4 linked regions of the Homo sapiens genome follow. The protein of the gene in region 1 purifies or fractionates together with the protein of each later gene. This does not show direct contact. Each region holds a gene or a part of one and is shown in the gene's direction. Other genes may lie near its edges.

Evidence for each region. Proteins that work in one complex are often made in the same cells at the same time.
Region 2: the proteins of SLC39A8 (region 1) and LTAP1 purify together in Homo sapiens (affinity purification with mass spectrometry; 3 studies listed by BioGRID and IntAct, with this or other methods). This does not show direct contact.
Region 3: the proteins of SLC39A8 (region 1) and SGPP1 purify together in Homo sapiens (affinity purification with mass spectrometry; 2 studies listed by BioGRID and IntAct, with this or other methods). This does not show direct contact.
Region 4: the proteins of SLC39A8 (region 1) and FAR2 purify together in Homo sapiens (affinity purification with mass spectrometry; one large-scale study listed by BioGRID and IntAct). This does not show direct contact.

Annotation. Positions count from the first base shown.
Region 1 is NC_000004.12:102,303,320-102,308,308, reverse strand, and holds part of SLC39A8 (metal cation symporter ZIP8 isoform a precursor), read left to right. Parts: intron 1-703; coding exon 704-873; intron 874-2,307; exon of another isoform or gene 2,308-3,113; intron 3,114-3,197; coding exon 3,198-3,320; intron 3,321-3,827; coding exon 3,828-3,992; intron 3,993-4,989. UniProt on the Homo sapiens protein: Electroneutral divalent metal cation:bicarbonate symporter of the plasma membrane mediating the cellular uptake of zinc and manganese, two divalent metal cations important for development, tissue homeostasis and immunity.
Region 2 is NC_000001.11:154,210,146-154,215,134, reverse strand, and holds part of LTAP1 (protein C1orf43), read left to right. Parts: intron 1-560; coding exon 561-678; intron 679-1,188; coding exon 1,189-1,242; intron 1,243-2,510; coding exon 2,511-2,677; intron 2,678-2,756; coding exon 2,757-2,815; coding exon of another isoform or gene 2,816-2,819; exon of another isoform or gene 2,820-3,674; intron 3,675-4,989. UniProt on the Homo sapiens protein: General regulator of phagocytosis. Required to uptake Gram negative bacterium by macrophages.
Region 3 is NC_000014.9:63,696,621-63,701,609, reverse strand, and holds part of SGPP1 (sphingosine-1-phosphate phosphatase 1), read left to right. Parts: intron 1-898; exon of another isoform or gene 899-2,813; intron 2,814-2,951; coding exon 2,952-3,041; intron 3,042-4,989.
Region 4 is NC_000012.12:29,305,234-29,310,222, forward strand, and holds part of FAR2 (fatty acyl-CoA reductase 2), read left to right. Parts: intron 1-2,424; coding exon 2,425-2,602; intron 2,603-2,616; exon of another isoform or gene 2,617-2,811; intron 2,812-3,952; coding exon 3,953-3,997; intron 3,998-4,537; exon of another isoform or gene 4,538-4,670; intron 4,671-4,989. UniProt on the Homo sapiens protein: Catalyzes the reduction of saturated but not unsaturated C16 or C18 fatty acyl-CoA to fatty alcohols (FAls). A lower activity can be observed with shorter fatty acyl-CoA substrates.

The DNA of each region.
Region 1 (4,989 bases):
TTTTTGCCTAATTTGTGTCTCACAGGGTGGGTTATGTAATGCAGCTGCTCCCTCCTGCCCCATGTGCTCACTTCCTGAGTGCTTATTGCATCAGACTGACTTTGATTCCCAGGAGGCTCCAGCTGGGGACCTGAGGTGCTGCTGGTGCCACCTTCTCTGAGGAGATGCTGTCCTCAGGAGTCTGAAGACAAATGATTGTGACAAACTCAGTGTTAGCAGCTATGGTCACCTTGAAGCTAGCTCACTGTGACCCATCTCCATCCCTGCCCTCCCACCCATCACCCCATACCTTTGTCCTGAGGCTCACACTGCCCCTGTTTTTTCTTTTTTTTCAAAATGCTGTTTTAATCTATTCCTTGAGCCATAGATGAAACTAGGTGGCTTGGAGCCTGTGGATCTCAGATTGTTTGTCGCTGTTCGCTGTTCTAGATGTTCTCCAATTTCCCTGCAAGCTGTAAAACTCATTAATCCCATAATGATGATTTAGGGCTGATTAAAACATAAACAGTATTACTATTAATGCTTGCTATGCCATATTTGTATTCTCAGTTTTCTATATACTTTTCATTGAGTAGATTTTGTTCTTTTAAAGAAGATATGTGTCTTAAGCTTTTAAAGACACTTTTAAGCTTAATGTACAGGAAAACATCATTTGGTTCCTTGCTCTGATTAATTTCTACTCTCTTTTCCCTCTGACCCACAGTTTGGGGATATGGATTCCTGTCAGTGACGATTATTAATCTGGCATCTCTCCTCGGATTGATTTTGACTCCACTGATAAAGAAATCTTATTTCCCAAAGATTTTGACCTTTTTTGTGGGGCTGGCTATTGGGACTCTTTTTTCAAATGCAATTTTCCAACTTATTCCAGAGGTAAGGATGTTGGCTATTTGTTTCTGTGAATAATTGTTTCTTTTGAACGTTTTAGCACTTTGTATGTTTTTAGCCTCCATAATTCTTACAGCGTTTTATGGTCTAGTTTATAGTGTCTTGGATAAGAGAAAGCTGAATCACAGCAATTGTAAAGGCTTGTCCCAAGCTGCAGTGGATATCACTATCAGAGACAAAATTAATATTCTAGGAGGCCAGCCACTAGGACGTGCTCAGACAGCTCTGGGACACCTCAGAAGGCCTTAAAACTTTATTCTGCCTTGCACTTGGCAAATTTAATTTTTCCACACACTGTTTCATTATTTATTTATTTATTTATTTTTCTAAAGAGCATGCAATGTCAACTGTACTGCAAATGTCAAATGTAAATTTATAATGTATTTAACATATACCACTAAATTCCCTCATATATTTACTACAGTTATAAGTGACTAGAGAGTAAATGAGAGCATGGTTGACAAACCTTTTCATTTTTTCCAACTGTGGAAAAAATATCAATTGAGGACTAATAAATAAATAGCAACTTATTTTTTTTCTTTGATAAAATGTGTTATTGATCTATCTTGACTATAGTGCACACTATTCAATTTATTTCAAATCTGTGTTGTGCCCATATAAGGAAGAGAAATGGAGGAAGGGAAATAAATGAAAGGAAAAGAGAGGCAATGTTGAAGAGGAAGGAAAGGAGAAAGAGACTTTCATAGAAGGGATCCACAAAGGGGAACTAGAGAAATATATGTATACATGGACTGTATCTGCCACCCACAATGCACACACACAGGGAGAGACAAACCCCATACAGAGAGAAAATATTAATAGTATTTCAGGGAGTACCACCCTTATCTCGTAATTTTTAGAAAATTATAACTAAAGCTTCCTTTAATTTTTCAAGCTATACATTGAAAGTGGGTATATAACTTTTTAGAGTTATAGATTTATTATCATTATTTGATCTAGGACCTAAGATAATATCTATTTCACAGCCTCAATTGTAGAGATAAAAAATATTAAAATTTAGGGTGGTTAAATAATTTGATTATAGCCTTACAATCAGCTAGTAACAAAGCTAGGATGACAATACAGATTTTCTGATTTAAAAGAGTATTATATACATAATACATTTAATATGATATAATATATGTATTTATTATCTCATCTGCTTTATGGGTCAAAGTAAATTAAACAAACTAATACTGTATGTGGACTAAAGACTCTACATTGATGATGTTAAGGTTTTCTATTTTCTTGAAGTTTAACAATATAAAGAATCTGTCTTTGTAATAATCTCTCAAATTTTCATAGAGTTTTTTGTAGCAAAATGATTTTCCTTTTCTTATTTCACTTTATTTTCATAACCTCAATGTTAGGTAAATGGAACATTTATATTTATATAGCCATTTTGCATTGTATAAACAGGCACAAAGAAGTTATTCAAATGAGGATGCGGCCATGATGTCTCCCCAGAGGCAAACATAGGACAAGAACCCAGACATCTTCTATTCTGCTTCAGAGGGGAGATTTACAATGTGTGGAATGGTGTAAAGTTGTGGCTTTTCACCCATTAGTCTCTCCTCTGATTCTATTTATTTGAAGTTTATGTGTCTTGTCTGTTAGGAACATCTTGACTCTTTATAACTTCAAACTCTAACTCCAGTTCTTTGTCCTTTAAAGAAAGAATTATTCCATTCTTATTGCTGTGTGTGTGTGAAAGAGAGAGAGAGAGTGGTGGCAATTTTAAATCTTCTTTTTGCTTTTATTCTTGGGCCTAGGCCTTGATTTATTTACCTTTTTAGGATTTATCACAGTTCTGTAGGTATAAGAGGATTTCTCTTGGGAAAACAGTAATCCAAGTGGCCTGCCATATTTGTTTTAAAAGTTTGATTCTGGATATCATGGACTAATATATTACTTTTAGAGACAGTAGGTAATCAATATCTCATTTATCTTCATTATCTAGACCTAATATCGTATTCTAAAGATGAGAATCAGAGCTGCTGCTTTACTGCTAAAAGTTTACTCTTTCAAGGCAAATATTGCTGTAGGTGTTATAGGTGGGAAACTGTAAGATTCTCTGGTGGCTTTATTTAATGAGACTTCTAGTTGTAAGGTTTTTGTGCCATCTCATACAGTTTTGTCATTCAAATTTCAAAGTTTTTGTTTTGTGATTTTTGGCAGCTAAGTTTCCAATATTACTTGGATGTGAAGAGAGACTTAGAACATTGGTGAGAATTGCATACTGGTATTATTTTCCAGAAATCAAGTTAAATTTCTTGGTTTTACTTGAATTGCCCTTTTTTCTCCCTTAGGCATTTGGATTTGATCCCAAAGTCGACAGTTATGTTGAGAAGGCAGTTGCTGTGTTTGGTGGATTTTACCTACTTTTCTTTTTTGAAAGAATGCTAAAGATGTTATTAAAGACATATGGTCAGGTAAATGGACTTTATTTAAAACATCCAATATTTTACCCCCTAAAGCTACTTTATATAGGCAAATAAAGACAGAAATTTTATTTTTAGAATTATGAGAATGGTCCAGTTATTAGGCTTGTGAGTTTAAGGAGAACAAAGAGTCAATATATTGACAAGTATAAGATAAATACTTGATTCATGTTGTAAAATTTGGAGGTTATTTTTGTTTTTTTTCAAGTATCAGCAATTTAATATTGAATAACAGATGTGCATAATTCATATTCTATTCATATTCATCAAAATAAGAGTGTATACGTGTTCTAACACGAACAAACAGTAACAGCAGAATCTAATAAATGAAAATACATGTAAAAAAGAGAAATTTTATATATCTAAAAATACTTCTTTACACATAGAATAGACATACAATTTTCCTCTTATAAATAAAAAGCAGTAAACTCTATTTCCTTGTCTGTATGAATCATCTTTTTTCTTCTTATAATCTCTTTGGTTTTTGTTCCCATATAGAATGGTCATACCCACTTTGGAAATGATAACTTTGGTCCTCAAGAAAAAACTCATCAACCTAAAGCATTACCTGCCATCAATGGTGTGACATGCTATGCAAATCCTGCTGTCACAGAAGCTAATGGACATATCCATTTTGATAATGTCAGTGTGGTATCTCTACAGGTATATGTTAATTCCATTTTTCCTTCATTATACTGCATTCTTTATACTGTGTAAACATGACTGTTTATGCAGCTAAGTCAGTTTTTGTACATTTATGTATGTCAGACTTATTCCTATATATGTGGGGTAACTGGAATGTAAGTCTGCATTGTTTTTCCACCTTCCCTGTATATGTTTACTCTAAACAAGTGAGTTAAGAAAGAAATTGTGGATCACTGTTCTGGACTTCATTATTCTCTAAGATTATTTACTATATGAGAGTCTCTCAATTGCATTTATACAATATTATATAGCAAAATTTATTCAGAGCATTTATTTTACAATTCTTTGAAGATCCAGAATCAAATAATCCTTTGATTGATTTTGAAATTGCAAGAAGATTTGCAAATTATTAAAATTGTTTTTATTAATTGTCTGACTTATAATTTATATTTATATCCACATCTTCTAAATAATATTAATAGGCACAATTTCTTGAGCACGTATCATATACCAGGTAATATGCTTAGCACTTAATTATTTGATCTCATTTACTTTTTATAACAACTACTCAGTGTAGGGATTATTTCTTATGTATTAGAACTATATTGGTTTCAAGTGATAGAAATCAAACAAAATTATATATGCACAAAGGACAACTTACTGGAAAGATACTAGATGACTAATAGAACAGCCAAGCTACAGGAAAAACAAGAACCTAGGAAACATTAGAACCCCTAGGACTCTCCCTCCTTCTCTTTCCTGTCTCTTAGTATCATTCTTTTCTTTCACTGTAGGCTATCTTTTCCATAAGTGGGATACATAGCCACTAGCAGTTCCTGAGGTTTGTCTTATAATTTCAGCTACTAGAAGGAAATTGACCTGACTCTTTCAGTCCTAAATCCAAAATCTCTGGCAAGTGTCTTCCTGGTTCAGCTTGAATTAGATGATCACTTCTAGACTAATCTAAGTGCTTAGAGGGCTGGGCCCCTTTAATGGTATCAAGGGAATGTGGATG
Region 2 (4,989 bases), on another chromosome or scaffold:
AGTAGCTCACACCTGTAATCCCAGCACTTTGGGAGGCCAAGGCAGGCGGATCACTTGAGGTCAGGAGTTTGAGACCAGCCTGGCCAACATGGTGAAACCCCATCTCTACTAAGAATAGAAAAATTAGCCAGACATGGTCGTACGCGCCTATAATCCCAGCTACTCTGGAGGCTGAGGCAGGAGAATTGCTTGAACCTGGGAGGCGGAGGTTGCAGTGAACTGAGATTGCGCCACTGCACTCCAGCCTGGGTGATAGAGCAAGACTCTGTCTCAAAAAAAAAAAAAAAAAATTGGAAATAATGTTGGTGCTGTATAGCTTGAAGGATTTCTGGCACAAGTTAAATGTTCTAGCTTAGAGATGTGCAGCTTGGAGAGGTTATTGGAAAACCCAATCCCGTTCTTTCCTAAATTCTTACCTCTTATCTGGTAATTTTATTAACTACATGAGCATGGTCTCTATTTCTGTTGTCTTAGTTATTCATTAACTCTGCCCCATTTTCACATTGGTGGAAAGCAGAGTGCAGGGTAAATGATTGTGTATTCTTTTTTTATGTGAACAGGACTTGAAAGAGGAGATTGATATTCGACTCTCCAGGGTTCAGGATATCAAGTATGAGCCCCAGCTCCTTGCAGATGATGATGCTAGACTACTACAACTGGAAACCCAGGGAAATCAAAGTATGTGGCAAGCTCTTGGAATGCTTCAGTGAGGAGTCCCACAAGTCCAGAATTCCTTTTCTCTCAGAGTTGTCAAAAGCTGCTGGCAAAGCCTTAGTTATTCCTGTTATTGGATATATGTTAGATGCAGAGCCCATTTATTAGCTTGCTGGAGTTTGGGGAATTTTTTTTTTCTTTTTTGAGATGGAGTTTCACTCTTGTTGCCCAGGCTGGAGTGCAATGGTGCAGTCTCAGCTCACTGCAACCTCCACCCCCTTGTTCAAGCAATTCTTCTACCTCAGCCTCCTGAGTAGCTGGGATTACAGGCATGCGCCACCACGCCTGGCTAATTTTGTGTTTTTACTAGAGACGGGGTTTCTCCATGTTGGTCAGGCTGGTCTCAAACTCCTGACCTCAGGTGATCCACCCACCTCAGCCTCCCAAAGTGTTGGGATTACAGGCATGAGCCACCACGCCCAGCCTGGGGAATATTTTTAGGGTTATGCCTAACACCAGTCTTTTCCTCAACAGGTTGCTACAACTATCTGTATAGGATGAAAGCTCTGGATGCCATTCGTACCTCTGGTAAGGGCTACCTGACAGGGTCCATTCTAGGATCCTGAAAGCCCACCTAGGGAACAGAGTAATGAACCCACTTTGTATGTTAGGATTTGTCCTTTCTGCACATCCCTGGCTAGTAGGAAATTCTAGAGTTTTGAAAGTACTAGATTAGAGATTTTGCTGAAGGAAATGATATAAGCAGGTTATTCTCCAAAGAGTCTGGGTGTTTTGTTTTTTAAAGTTCTTCTCTTGAGACCTTTAGTTTCATGAAGTAGATGATAGTAATTTGCTTGTTTTTCCACAAAGGACAGGTGGCACCTGCTTTTTCACTAAGCCCAAGATAGATTGTTCTTGAATTTTTTCCATTCTGTCAACACTTGTCATATATGCTTTATCTCTATGAAAACAGTTTATATCTTAAACCTAGGATGGATGAGTAAGCAGGATGGTAAAATGTGTGATGACACTATCATGTGTCATAGATGTAGCTTACAACTGTGGTGTTACCACCAAATGACCACTCAGGCACAGCTTTATACCTTTGGTCTCAATCAGAATCTCCCTCTAACTCAACTTGCTCATTTCATTAGACCTATTTCTTTTTATTTTTGAGACGGAGTCTTGCTCTGTTGCCCAGGCTGGAGTGCAGTAGCACGATCTTGGCTCACCACAACCTCCACCTCCTGGGTTCAAGCGGTTCTCCTGCCTCAGCCTCCCGAGTAGCTGGGATTACAGGTACCTACCACCATGCCTGGTTAATTTTTGTATTTTTAGTAGGGACAGGTTTTCACCATGTTGGCCAGGCTGGTCTCAAACTCCTGACCTCAGGTGATCTGCCTGCCCCGGCCTCCCAAATTGCTGTAATTACAGGCGTGAGCCACTGCGCCCAGCTTCATTAGACCTACTTCTAAGTTTGGGGAATTAACTAGAAAGACTAAAGAATGGGGCAGGCGCAGTGGCTCATGCCTGTAATCCCAACGCTTTGGGAGGGCGAGGCAGACAGATCACAGGAGGCCAGGAGTTCAAGACCAACCTAGCCAACAAGGTGAAACCCTTTTGTATTTTTGTCTCTACTAAAAATACAAAAATAAGCCTGGCATGGTGGTGCACATCTGTAATCCCAGCTAATCAGGAGGCTGAGACTAGAGAATTGCTCAAACCTAGGAGGTGGAGGTTGCAGTGAGCCAAGATCACTGCCACTGCACTCCAGCCCGGGTGACAGAGCGAGACTCCATCTCAAAAAAAAAGACTAAAGAATGAGAAGAGATATCATTGTGCTGTTTTCTCCACAGAGATCCCATTTCATTCTGAAGGCCGGCATCCCCGTTCCTTAATGGGCAAGAATTTCCGCTCCTACCTGCTGGATCTGCGAAACACTAGTACGCCTTTCAAGGGTGTACGCAAAGCACTCATTGATACCCTTTTGGATGGCTATGAAACAGCCCGCTATGGGACAGGGGTAAGCCAGTTTTTTCTTCGGGGCACTAAAGAGATCCCTCAGACTGAGAGATCCTCACTCTTCCTTTCTCTTTCCTAAGGTCTTTGGCCAGAATGAGTACCTACGCTATCAGGAGGCCCTGAGTGAGCTGGCCACTGCGTGAGTTTGGAGGGGAACGTGTCAGAGGGAGCTGGTACAGTAGTGTTGGACTGTTGCCACAGTGCAGTGACCTTCATAAAGCATATAAACAAAATCCATGATACCATAAGAGTTGTCAGGTTCTAGACTATTAGATCAGTCTCTTACATTAGAAAGCAGATGCGGCCGGGCACAGTGGTTCACGCCTATAATCCCAGCACTTTGGGAGGCCGAGGCGGGAGGATCATCTGAGGTTGGGAATCCGAGACCAGCCTGACCAACATGGAGAAACCCCGTTCTCTACTAAAAATACAAAATTAGCCGGGCGTGGTGGCGCATGCCTGTAATCCTAGCTTCTGGGGAGGCTGAGGCAGGAGAATCTCTTGAACCCGGGAGGCGGAGGTTGCGGTGAGCCAAGATCGTGCCATTATACTCCAGCCTGGGCAACAAAAGTGAAACTCTGTCTCAAAAAAAAAAAAGAAGAAAAGAAAGCAGATGCAACTATACAAGCTAGTAAAAGAAGTTTTTACTAGCATTTTTCTTGTGTGCATTTTTCTTGTCTTTTGTTTAGCCCAATAAAATGTCAAAATTGGTGTAGCCTAGCAAAGGGAATAGTTTTTCAGCACACACAGGGATTCCTTCTCTTCAGAGTCTCAGCGTCCCTTTTGTGTCTTGGCCCAATAAAAGTAAGAATTAAATAACATTGGGCCGGGCGCGGTGGCTCACGCCTGTAATCCCAGCACTTTGGGAGGCCGAGGCAGGCGAATCATGAGGTCAAGAGATCAAGACCATCCTAGCCAACAAGGTGAAACCCTGTCTCTACTAAAAATACAAAAATTAGCTGGGCATGGTGGTGCGTGCCTGTAATCTCAGCTACTCGGGTGGCTGAGGCAGGAGAATCGCTTGACCCCAGGAGGCAGAGGTTGCAGTGAGCTGAGATCACGCCACTGCACTCCAGCCTGGTGACAGAGCAAGACTCCATCTCAAAAAAAAAAAAAAAAAAAAAAAAAAAAAAAGAATTAAATAACATCTATTTTTGGCCGGGCGCGGTGGCTCACGCCTATAATCCCAGCACTTTGGGAGGCCGAGGAGGGTGGATCACAAGGTCAGGAGTTCAAGACCAGCCTGGCCAACATGGTGAAACCTCGTCTTTACTGAAAATACAAAAATTAGCTGGGCATGCTGGCGGGCTCCTGTAATACCAGCTACTCGGGAGGCTGAGGCAGAAATCACTTGAACCCGGGAGGTGGAGGTTGCAATGAGCCGATATCATGCCATTGCACTTCAGCTGGGGTGACAAGAGCATGACTGTCTCAAAAAAAAAATAAAAATTAAAAATTAAAAAAATCTATTTTTACTACCACTTAAAGTATTAGTAACCATGTCTGAAACAAAGGCCATCGCTATAGAGTCAGCTGTTGAGCATTTGTGTCACAGGAGAGGATTCATGGCTTTTGTTTGGGAATGTTTTTAATACACACTAAACATAGTCTCGTATTTTCATGCAAATGTTAAAATCAAAGTTCTTGGCGAGAAAGGAAAGCCAATCTAGAGTAAAAACTTAGGCCGGGCGCAGTGGCTCACACCTGTAATCCCAACACTGGGAGGCCGAGGCAGGTGGATCATCTAAGGTCAGGAGTTCAAGACCAGCTTAACCAACATGGTGAAACCCCATCTCTACAAAAATACAAAAATTAGCCGGGCATGATGATGTGCGCACCTGTAATGCCAGCCACTCAGGAAGGTGAGGCAGGAGAATCGCTTGAACCTGGGAGGTGGAGGTTGCAGTGAGCCAAGATCGTGCCATTCCACTCCAGCCTAGGCGACAGAGCGAGACTCCATCTCAAAATAATAATAAACAGTTAGTTACCAGCCATAAAAATAATCTGTTTTCTGCTATGTTGAATATTGCTCTTTTTCAAGAGCTTAAGGGGTATGTCTCTCCTGTCTTCTCTCTGTCCCTAAAAATGAGCTACGTTGTCTTAAAAGATGAAAGGGCCAAGGCCTGGAGCAGTGGCTCACGTCTATAATCCCAGCACTTTGGGAGGCCAAGGTGGGCGGATCACTTGAGGCCAGGAGTTGGAGACCAGCCTGGCCAACATGACAAAACCTCATCTCTACTAAAAATATAAAAATTAGCCTGGTGTGGTGGCACATGCCTGTAATCCCAGCTATTCCAGAGGCTGAGGCAGGAG
Region 3 (4,989 bases), on another chromosome or scaffold:
ATGGCCACAGCTAGCCTCCTTGCCAGTCATACTTGGTGATCAGAAACTTTGCTCACTGATTCGCCTGCCTAGTATATGCTATTCCCACAGATAATCTGCTTGGCAAGTATACTCACCTCACCTCCATTCCGTCTTGCCTCAAATCTCAACTTCTCAATAAAGCCTACACTATCTTCTATTTAATACTGTAACCTGCCCCATTTACACTCTGAAACTCATGACCCTATTTTTATATCTGTTTTAATTAAGTTAGACTTGTTGATACTGTGGCAATGACTTAATCCCAAAATTGCAATGACTTAACACATAACAAAATCTTGTATCTTGGCCAGGAGTGGTGGCTCATGCCTCTCATCTCAGTACTGTGGGAGGCCAAGGCGGGTGAATTGCTTGAGCCCGGGAATTTAAGACCAGTCATGGGCAACATGGCGAGACCCTGTCTCTGCAAAATATTTTTTAAAAAATCAGCTGGATGTGGTGGCACACCTCTAGTCCCAGCTACTCTGGAGGCTGAGGTAGGAGGGTCGCTTGAGTCTGAGAGGTGGAGGTTGCAGTGAGCCGAGATCATGCCACTGCACTCCAGCCTGGGCAACAGAGCGAGACCCTATCTCAAAAAAAAAAAAATCTTGTGTTACAAATCCATTATGCGTTAGCAAACAGCTTTGTCCACTTTGACCCTCAAGGACCTAGGCTGATGGAAGCTTGCCCGTCTCGTGATGCATCTCAACATGTAGTTTCCCAGGGTCACATCTATAGGAAAGAGAGAGTTCAAAGGAAGATTGAAAGTGGCATAAGTCACTTTTTTCCCCAGCTCACTGGCCAAAATTAGTTGCATGACCCTAATGTAAGTGAATCCAAAATGTAGGAGGAGCACAAGGAATATTAATGAGCATTACTATTTCTTCAACACATGTTCTCTTTTTATTTTCTCCATGTTACCTATCAGGTTTTATTATATGATTTATATATTTTATATAACTTATACATATTTACATATCATATCATTTGCATGCTTTTGTGTTTACTGTTTAATGCCTCCTCCAGCAAGAATAGGAACTTATACTCCCAGAAAAGAATATAATTATTCTCCCAAGGAATATTTAGAATATAAAATTAGTAAAACTTGATTATTTGTTGAATACAACGGCTAAGGAAAGAATTAAGGATAATTCATGTTTCTCATTTGGATTACTTGGTTTTTGGTGTTTCCAAATGAAATAGGGAATATCAGAGGAGGAACAAGTGTGGGTGATATGATGATGAGTTTGGTTTGAGGTATAGTGGGTTTACTGCCATAGGGACCTCAAGGTGGAAATATGTGCAGAGTTGGATATATGGTTCTTAAACCCGGGGAAATGGGTAGGTCTTCAGCATGCCTAGTCTAGAAGTAGTTAAAAAAATAAGAAAGGGGGCCAGGTGCATTGGCTCACTGCACCTGTAATCTTAGCACTTTGCGAGGCCAAGGTGTGTGGATCGCTTGAACTCAGGAGTTTGAGATACCCATCTGTAGTCCTAGCTGCTCGGGAGGCTGAGGCAGGAGGATTGCTTGAGCCTGGGAGGTTGAGACTGCAGTGAGCCATGATTATGCTGCCGCACATCAGCCTTGGTGACAGAGTAAGACCCTGTCTCAAAAAAAAGGAAAAGGTAAGACTGTCAGTAACTACTAAGGACAGAATCCTTCTGTATACTAATGTTTAAAGAACAAAAAGAGGAAGATACGCTCTTGTGTGGGAAATGCAGCAAAAAATAAATGGTGAAAGGTGAACCAGGAGAGTATGAAGCTATGACTATCGAGGGTATTTAGAGTTTCAAGGAGAAAGTGAGGGACCATGTTAAATGTAGTAGATATGTAAAAAAAACAACAACAACCAAAAAAAAAAACAACTCTGCCTGTAGTTCCAGCTACTCAGGAGGCTAAGGCAGGAGGATCACTTGGGCCCAGGAGTTCAAGGTGTTAGTATGCTATTATCACACCTGGGAATAGCCTCAGTACTTCAGCCTGAGCAACATAGTGAGACCCTGTCTTTCTAAAAAAACAGAACAAAACAAACCACCAAAAACCAACAATTTCGTACTAAATATTTTCTACTCTTCTTACAAGCTTACTTAAGTCCCTTGCTCCTTTATTTCAACCCAACTTCCCTAACCACATTGGCTTCAATTTCATTGAGAAATTTGAAGTCATCAGGCATAAACAGCCCCAAATGTGCCCTCCCTTCTTCCCTTTACAAACTTACCACCATGCCCATCCATCCTTTCCTCTTTCCCTCCAATCTCAGGACATTCACAGCCAACTTTTCCACTAGTGCCATTGATACCAAGAATTGTCTGCACTTTCTGTTTATGCTTTTTCCCTTTTATGATTTGTGCTCCTAGTATTCCACGGAAATTTTTCTCAGTAAGGGGACCATTTGAAATTTTAGTCAATGGGGTGGAAGTGAAAAACTAAGTACAAAGTGTTGAATACTGAATGCAAGGTAGGGGAATAGCAATATAAATTGGAGATAGCAGTCACTGATGAAGTGAGAGGGAGATAATGCCAATCCTCCTCCCCAGACAACTGAAGACATTTACATGGACCAGATTCAGGTACTATTCCAGAGGCCCTTTCATTTTGGTGGCCATATTAAAAGTATGTCTCTTACCTGTCCTCCTCCTCCTATACCATGCCAGTGATTGAATCTTCATTGTAGAAGCAGAAGTGAGCCAGTTCCCACAATAAAGAATTTAGACACATGAGATTTCATTCATTTGTTCATTTGTGGAAAAGTATTTCTTGAATGTCTGCCATGTGCCATACTCAGGGTTAGGTGCTGGAAATACAATGGGGAGTAAAAACAAATTTCTTGTTTTAGTGGACTTTATAGAATAGTGATTTGATTTGTCTTTTATTTGTTTGTTTATATCTAACTTAAATTTGTTTAACTAATTTTACTTTTTTTCCCCTTTAGTACCCTCTTATATATGGACTGATTCTTATTCCCTGCTGGTGTTCTCTAGTTTGCCTAAGTAGAATTTACATGGGAATGCACTCTATTCTGGTAAGGAAAATGTTGTCTTCTTAATACTTTATTTTTTATGACATTGACAGGAAATTTTATAATTTTTAATCATTTGCAAACTTACCTGAAGCCTAAATGAGAAAATATTGTAAGTCGTCTAACTTTGTTTTGCGAAAATATCAACATGATGGTTTATGAAATATTAATGTAGTAGTCACATATTTCATAGAAACAGTTTCCAGCAATCACAATAGCCAGGTATTATAATCAAGATAACATTTCTTCCTCCTTCCAGTCTCCCTTTTATTTTCCTTTGCAGTCTTTTCTGTGTCTCTCTTATCACTGAGTCAAAACCAGCAATGTGGCTACAGAAACCAAGGAGAGCTCCTAAGTATTGTTGAAGAACTAGTGACTAGAAACTATGTGAACTTAAACTTTCCAGGGGCCATTTGTGTTTACATATTAAACTCTACTTTTCTTTTCTTTCCCATCAGTATGTTAGGACTCACAGTGGACATTGTGTTTTGAGAATGCAATTCGGTTCCCAAAGCAGCAGCACAGGGACCCTGTACTATTTGCAGCCACACCCATTCACTTTCCCTCCTCGCTATCCCTATTGACACCCCCTTAGCTCTGGCCTGCAACATATCTTGACCAGATTACTGTGATAGCATCTTAATTAGTAGCCAACTTCCAGTTTGACACTGCTCCACTAGCATTCAGCTGTTTCGTAGACTTTCCAAAACACAAATACGATGCTATACTGAATTATTAGGTTTCCTCCAATGCAAAGGGTTTCTTACCTCCATAACTTTACAAATGCTGTAACATTTACTTGGAATGCCCCTTTCACTTTCTTTACCTTAACTATCCCATTCATTCTTCAAGACTCACTATAGATATTCTTAACCCCTCAAAGCCTTATTACCTTCCCCATCTTCTCTTTCTCAAGACTTGTGAGGTGACCCTTCCCCACTTATCCTAAATTGCAATTGCTTTTTTCCTTATCTGTCAAGTATACTAGACTCCAAGTTCCTTGAGAACAGCAACTGTGTGTTTTAACTCTACCTTTAGTATCCAACATGGTGTCTCATGAGGCATCTATGAATGAATTATGTATTATCATGGAGATAAAGGATCACAAAAAAAGGTGGAAGAATTCATGGAATTCTAGTTTCTAATGGGTCATGTCAGTTTTTTTCTTGTCCTTAACATGTTACCATTTTTAGAATTTTTTTTCTCATATTATTTCATTCTCTTATTTCTTAGTTATAGAAATGTTGGTTTCTATCTCAAATTTCTTGCTTCCAGCACCTGCTCCTTCACAGATAAATTTCCAGAAGTCCCAAACACTATTTTATTTTGTTGGGAGGCAGTGTGTGCTGTAATTTTGGGGTTGGTCATTGTTTCTAGGTTTTTTTAAATTTTAATTTTAGATTCAAGGGGTACATAAGCAGATTTGTTTGCAAAGGTATATTGTGTGATGCCAAGATTTGGACGTCTATTGATCCTGTGACCCAGATGGTGAACATAGTACCCAACAGGAAGTTTTGCAGCCCTTTCCTCCCCCCGCTCTCCCTCTCTCCTTTTGAAGTCCCTACCAAACACTTTTTTTTCTTTTTGAGACAGAGTCTTGCTCTGTTGTCCAAGCTGGAGGGCAGTGGCACAATCTCGGCTCACTGCAGCTTCTGCCTCCCAGGTTCAAGCAATTCTTGTGCCTCAACCTCCTGAGTAGCTGGGATTACAGACATGTACCATCACACCCGGCTAATTTTTGTATTTTTAGTAGAGACAGGGTTTCACCATGTTGGCCAGGCTGGTCTCAGACTCCTGACCTCAGGTAATCCACCTGCCTTGGCCTCCCAAAGTGCTGGGATTACAGATGTGAGCCACTGCGCCCAGCCCTAAACACTATTTTAATAAACAAATTATTTGTGTTTGACTTTTTATAATTATTTGTATTTAATATGAATTGTGAATTTACATA
Region 4 (4,989 bases), on another chromosome or scaffold:
AGCAATCCTCCTGCCTCAGCCTCCTGAGTAGCTGGAACTGCAGGTGCACACCACCATGCCCCATTAATTTTTTTACATTTTTTTTGTAGAGGCAGGGTGTTATTATGTTGCCCAGGCTGGTCTCAAACTCCTGGACTCAAACGATCCTCCTTCCTCAGCCTCCCAAAGTGCTGAGATTACAGGTTTGAGTCACCGCACTTGGCCAGAAATGACACTTTAAAACTAACTATTACCTACAAAGATGCATGCTCACTGGTTGTTTTATTAAAAAATAACAATGCCTTAGGTTTATTGGCTCATTTTGTTTTATCAAAGAGCTTAAATGCAGTTGTGAATATTCCTGTTTACCCTTATGATAATTTAGAATGAGTATAATTATTGCCATTTTCACAAGTACAATTGGAACTAGGTAATTTATATTCCTGTTTACTCTTATGAGAATTTAGAATCAGTATAATTATTGCCATTTTCACAAGTACAATTGGAATGAAAAGATAAAACAGTGGAATACAGGTGTAGCTGAGAGTAGCAGAGGCAAGTCATCTATAGAATATTAAAATTTCTTGCATGCGTGCTGTCAGAAATCTACGAAACCAAAATTTTCTAAGACAAGCAAACTCACCAAGCTTTATAAGGCCCCTATCCCCCCAAATATTATCCTTTCCATGTACCCCAACATTAATGACAGCAACTGGTACTAGCCATGTGACATACAATCCCTGCACATTATTGGGCTCTGATGTTTCCTAGGTTTTTTTTTTTTTACAGCTTTATTGAAATTAAGCTTTATTCCCTCAAGACCTGGTTTTCATAAACTATATATTTTTGCAGGTGAGAGAAAATGGTCTCAGGTCAGTCAATCCACTGTTGACCCACCAAATGAAATGAGATAGTGGTAGGACTGTTAAGATGGAGAGGTGTCTGCATCATCCTATATTCTTTCCCAGCCCCCAGGTGACCATATAATTAAAATATCCTAGATATTTCTATGTAGTTGAAGTTGTTTTTAATTCTAGAACCCCTCAATCTTTCTCTATTCAATTCAAATAAAAAGACATTTGAGTATCCAGAACACACTCAGCACTAATAGAAGCAAAGCAAGAAAAGTGGAAACATTATAGTCGATGCCCATGTTCTACCTCAGGATCAAATGAGGCATTAAAATTGAAAGTTGTGATTCTGAATAAGTCTTAACATCATGCACATCTTAGCTGCTCAAAAATTTGTCATGTCAGCAAAGTGGTAACAGTGAAGATTTTCTACAATCAAAATAGTATAGTTCTGTTCTGTTCTATAAAATAGAAATAAATATACCACATTGATTAGAAAAATCACACTAGCATATTTCGGCAGCTTAATTTTTAAAAAGCTATGTTATATCAATGATTTAACCACATAGATCTGTCAGCTAGAAGAATGTTAAATATATAATTGACAATACTTTTGTTGCTTTCTTAGAGAGGTGTAGATAGACTTTGGGGTTATCAAGTGGTTCTGACATATTTTTAAGAAAGATTAGGCTGATGCTATGGTAACTTGGTTATTCATGATACATTATCTTGTAAGTAGGAGTAGTCAATAATCGTGATTTTGAAGCTATTTCAGAGCACTATAATCACCCCACTTGACAGACTTCAGAATTCACTGGAAATCTCTGGAGATAATTTTCAAGTTATTAGCATAGACTCTAAACAGACCTTCAAAATGCATTACATAGGTTTGCTAAAACAGACTGTAAGTGCCAAAAGTAGTCACTTTGATTTGATTTGCATTGAGTGGAATTTTTAAAATTTAAAGCTAAAGGCTTCAGGATTACTGCACTGGATTTTTATCGGACAACACTGAGTAGGGCTGCCACTGAAGCACCTTGGATGACAGCCTCTAACTCCCTGAACACAGCATGCAGCACACTACTGGGAGAATGACTGGGACTCAAATATGTGTTCAATGAGTGTACTTATGAGCTTGCTAGAGAGGAAGTAAAGTAATAATAATCTCTAATATAGTACTAAAGTTCTAATTTAGTACTACTACAATAAAGTAGTAATCAGTACTGATAAAGTAGCAGTAGTGCTAAAGTAATACTAATAAAGTAGTACTAATAGTCCTATGCTATCATTCGTAATAAAGTAGTATTGCTATTGATTCTATCGGTCTATCTACCTACCTGCCTGCCTACCTACCTACCTACCTACCTATCTGTTTGGATGGGAGGGCATAGGATAAGATTGGGCTTAGCAGTGAAGAGCAAAAAGCTCATGCATGCTTTGAGCAGGTACACACTCAAACTTGGTATCATGTGACTGTTCTGAATTCCAGAACCGAGGCTAAAAGGTGGAAGTTTTGTTTGATTGTGTCTCACATTTTCCTTTTGGTTTATTGTCTAACATATGTTACTAGAATTCTCTTTACTCTACCTTTTAGGTGGTTAGACGATGCTATTATTGACGAGATTACACCCAAGCTGATCAGAGATTGGCCCAATATTTATACCTACACCAAGGCCTTGGGAGAAATGGTGGTGCAGCAAGAGAGCAGGAACCTGAACATTGCCATCATAAGGCCCTCCATTGTGGGAGCAACTTGGCAGGAGCCTTTCCCAGTAAGCCCACTTACCTGGATTCTGTGTTTTGCTTCCAAACTAAGGTTCTTCTAGTCCAATTACTTTCTGATGTCTTTCTTCTTCTCCTCCTCAGGATTTATAGCTAAGTGCAGCCAATCGAATATGAACCCATTATACTAGGGCAAAATTCCACTTTGGGTTCAGGATTTACCCAGCATGTGGCTCCTCTGGCAGTTATCTTGACTGCCCTAGAGTTGGACGGAGAGCTTAAATTAGCTTCTAACTACTCTAGTCTCAAAATTCACATGGGTGATGGTTTCATATCTTGGCTTTCCTACTATAGTTTAAGCATACCAGAATGTCCTTGATGGCCAAATTGGTAGTATTACAACTGCCAGGGTAAACAAGAGTTTCAAAGCTCACAGAAGGATCTCAGTTTAGGAATACTAATTTTTTTTAAACCTCAGTATACTGTCATGACCTTTTGAAAGTACTTTGAATTATACCATCTTCTTGAAAGCAAGTCTGTGAAGCTTTGGGGTAGATAAATTCCAGCTCCACTACTTACTGGTAATGCAACATTTTTGAGTTGTCCCTTCCATAAAACAGGACAGATACTATGGAGAGTTGATTTGATGAGACAATGTATGAGGAGTGGTCCCTACTAAAAGGCTCAACAAATATTAATCCCTTCATCTTCTCCTCTCTTCTCTCTCCTCTCCTGTTATACTCACACATTTGACTTTTATACTGTAACGTAAAGAGACATAATAAGGTCAGCTGAATGGCTTAGGTCTTAAGAAACAAACTTAAAAACACATTTCCCTCTAGCTGCTCTTAAATATAATCTCTGTAACATCTTTAAGTAAGTCAATATACACACAGACACACAGACACACACACACACACACACACACACACACATATATATATATATGTATATATATCTGGCATGGACTCTATAGCTGGTAAAAAATGTTAAGAAATGGGCCATTAACACAAATCATGTTTTCAATGTTCTCCTAAGGAGGCTGAAATCAGGACTAAGGTGGAGAAGTATGGTTGGTGAATTGCTTAGCAGATCATGATATAAGGACAAGGTCCAATTTAGTCCATAAGAGGTCATAAAACACCACAAAACCATTCATGATTCCTGCTAAGAAAAACAATCCTGGCAAAATTCTAATTTTTGCACAGTCAAATAAAGTACAGAAAATGGCCAATGCTTTGCCATTATCTTTTGAGATCTTAATAATACTGAATTAGATAGTTCTATTGGCTGGGATCTCAGTGCTCTTGTTTGAAATTTATTAAGATTAGACTGCAGATGTTCCAAAGATAAAACAATTTTCTGAAATGTGTAACCAATAGAAATCTTCTTTCTTTTAGGGTTGGGTTGATAATATAAATGGACCTAATGGAATCATTATTGCGGTATGTATAATGATGAAGAAATAACTCCCTGAAATGTAGTAGAGAAATAGTAACAAAATTCTTAGTGCTGGCTTAGCTTCATTGATCCAAAAACATAAATGTTACTTTACTAATAACTGAGGCATATTATTTTAATTGTTCTGATTGTAATATACAGGCAGGATGAAATTATTCTTTGAGAATTTTTTATCAGAAAAACAGAGGTAATGTGCTATCAGTTACTATTTAGGAGTTTTATTTTTGAAGTCTTTGAGCATCAAGGACTTTTCTTTAGTTACCACAAGATGGGGGTATTTCCTCCTTTTTGCAGTTTATAATCTCATGAATTAGTGCAGTGAATTGAGGATGCAGTAAAAATATCTTCAAAGATTATTAAATTCTTGATTATAAAACACATGTAAGAGTTTATGTGCGTGTGTAGAAAAGAGATATACATCAATAATTTTTAATGAATACAAGAAAGAGAACTACCAATTGGAGCAAATTTTTCAAATACAAAAATCCATGAATATAGGCAACATCTTTTCAATAATATCTTACCAGGAGAAACGTGGCTCCTCTAGGTAAGCAGCCCTTAGTGCGCATCTGCCCGAAGTCCAGATTGATCCAGCCAAGCTGTGGGGCTTCACAGCTCACACTGAAGCATTTAGGGTCTAAACCCCACTTCATTCTTCTGTACAATGAATAGGAAATCAGTGATCTAAATGAGTTTAAATTTTATTAGGGATTTAGACTGCGATTCAGACTCTGACTCTGTTCCTCCCAGAACTAGGTTCAACATGAATTGCAATACAGATATGAGACAGTGAATTATAACAGTGACAAAGATCTTCCTTCCGATTTCTGATTTTTCTAGCAGCCCCTTTCTTTCTGCTTCCCACCTGCCTTCAACTCTTTCTTCTACAAAAGTTCAGTTGGGGTGAACGTTTAGTGACTTAGAACATCATTATTTTAACGTGATCCCAAAACGGCTTTCATTACATGCAAAGCTA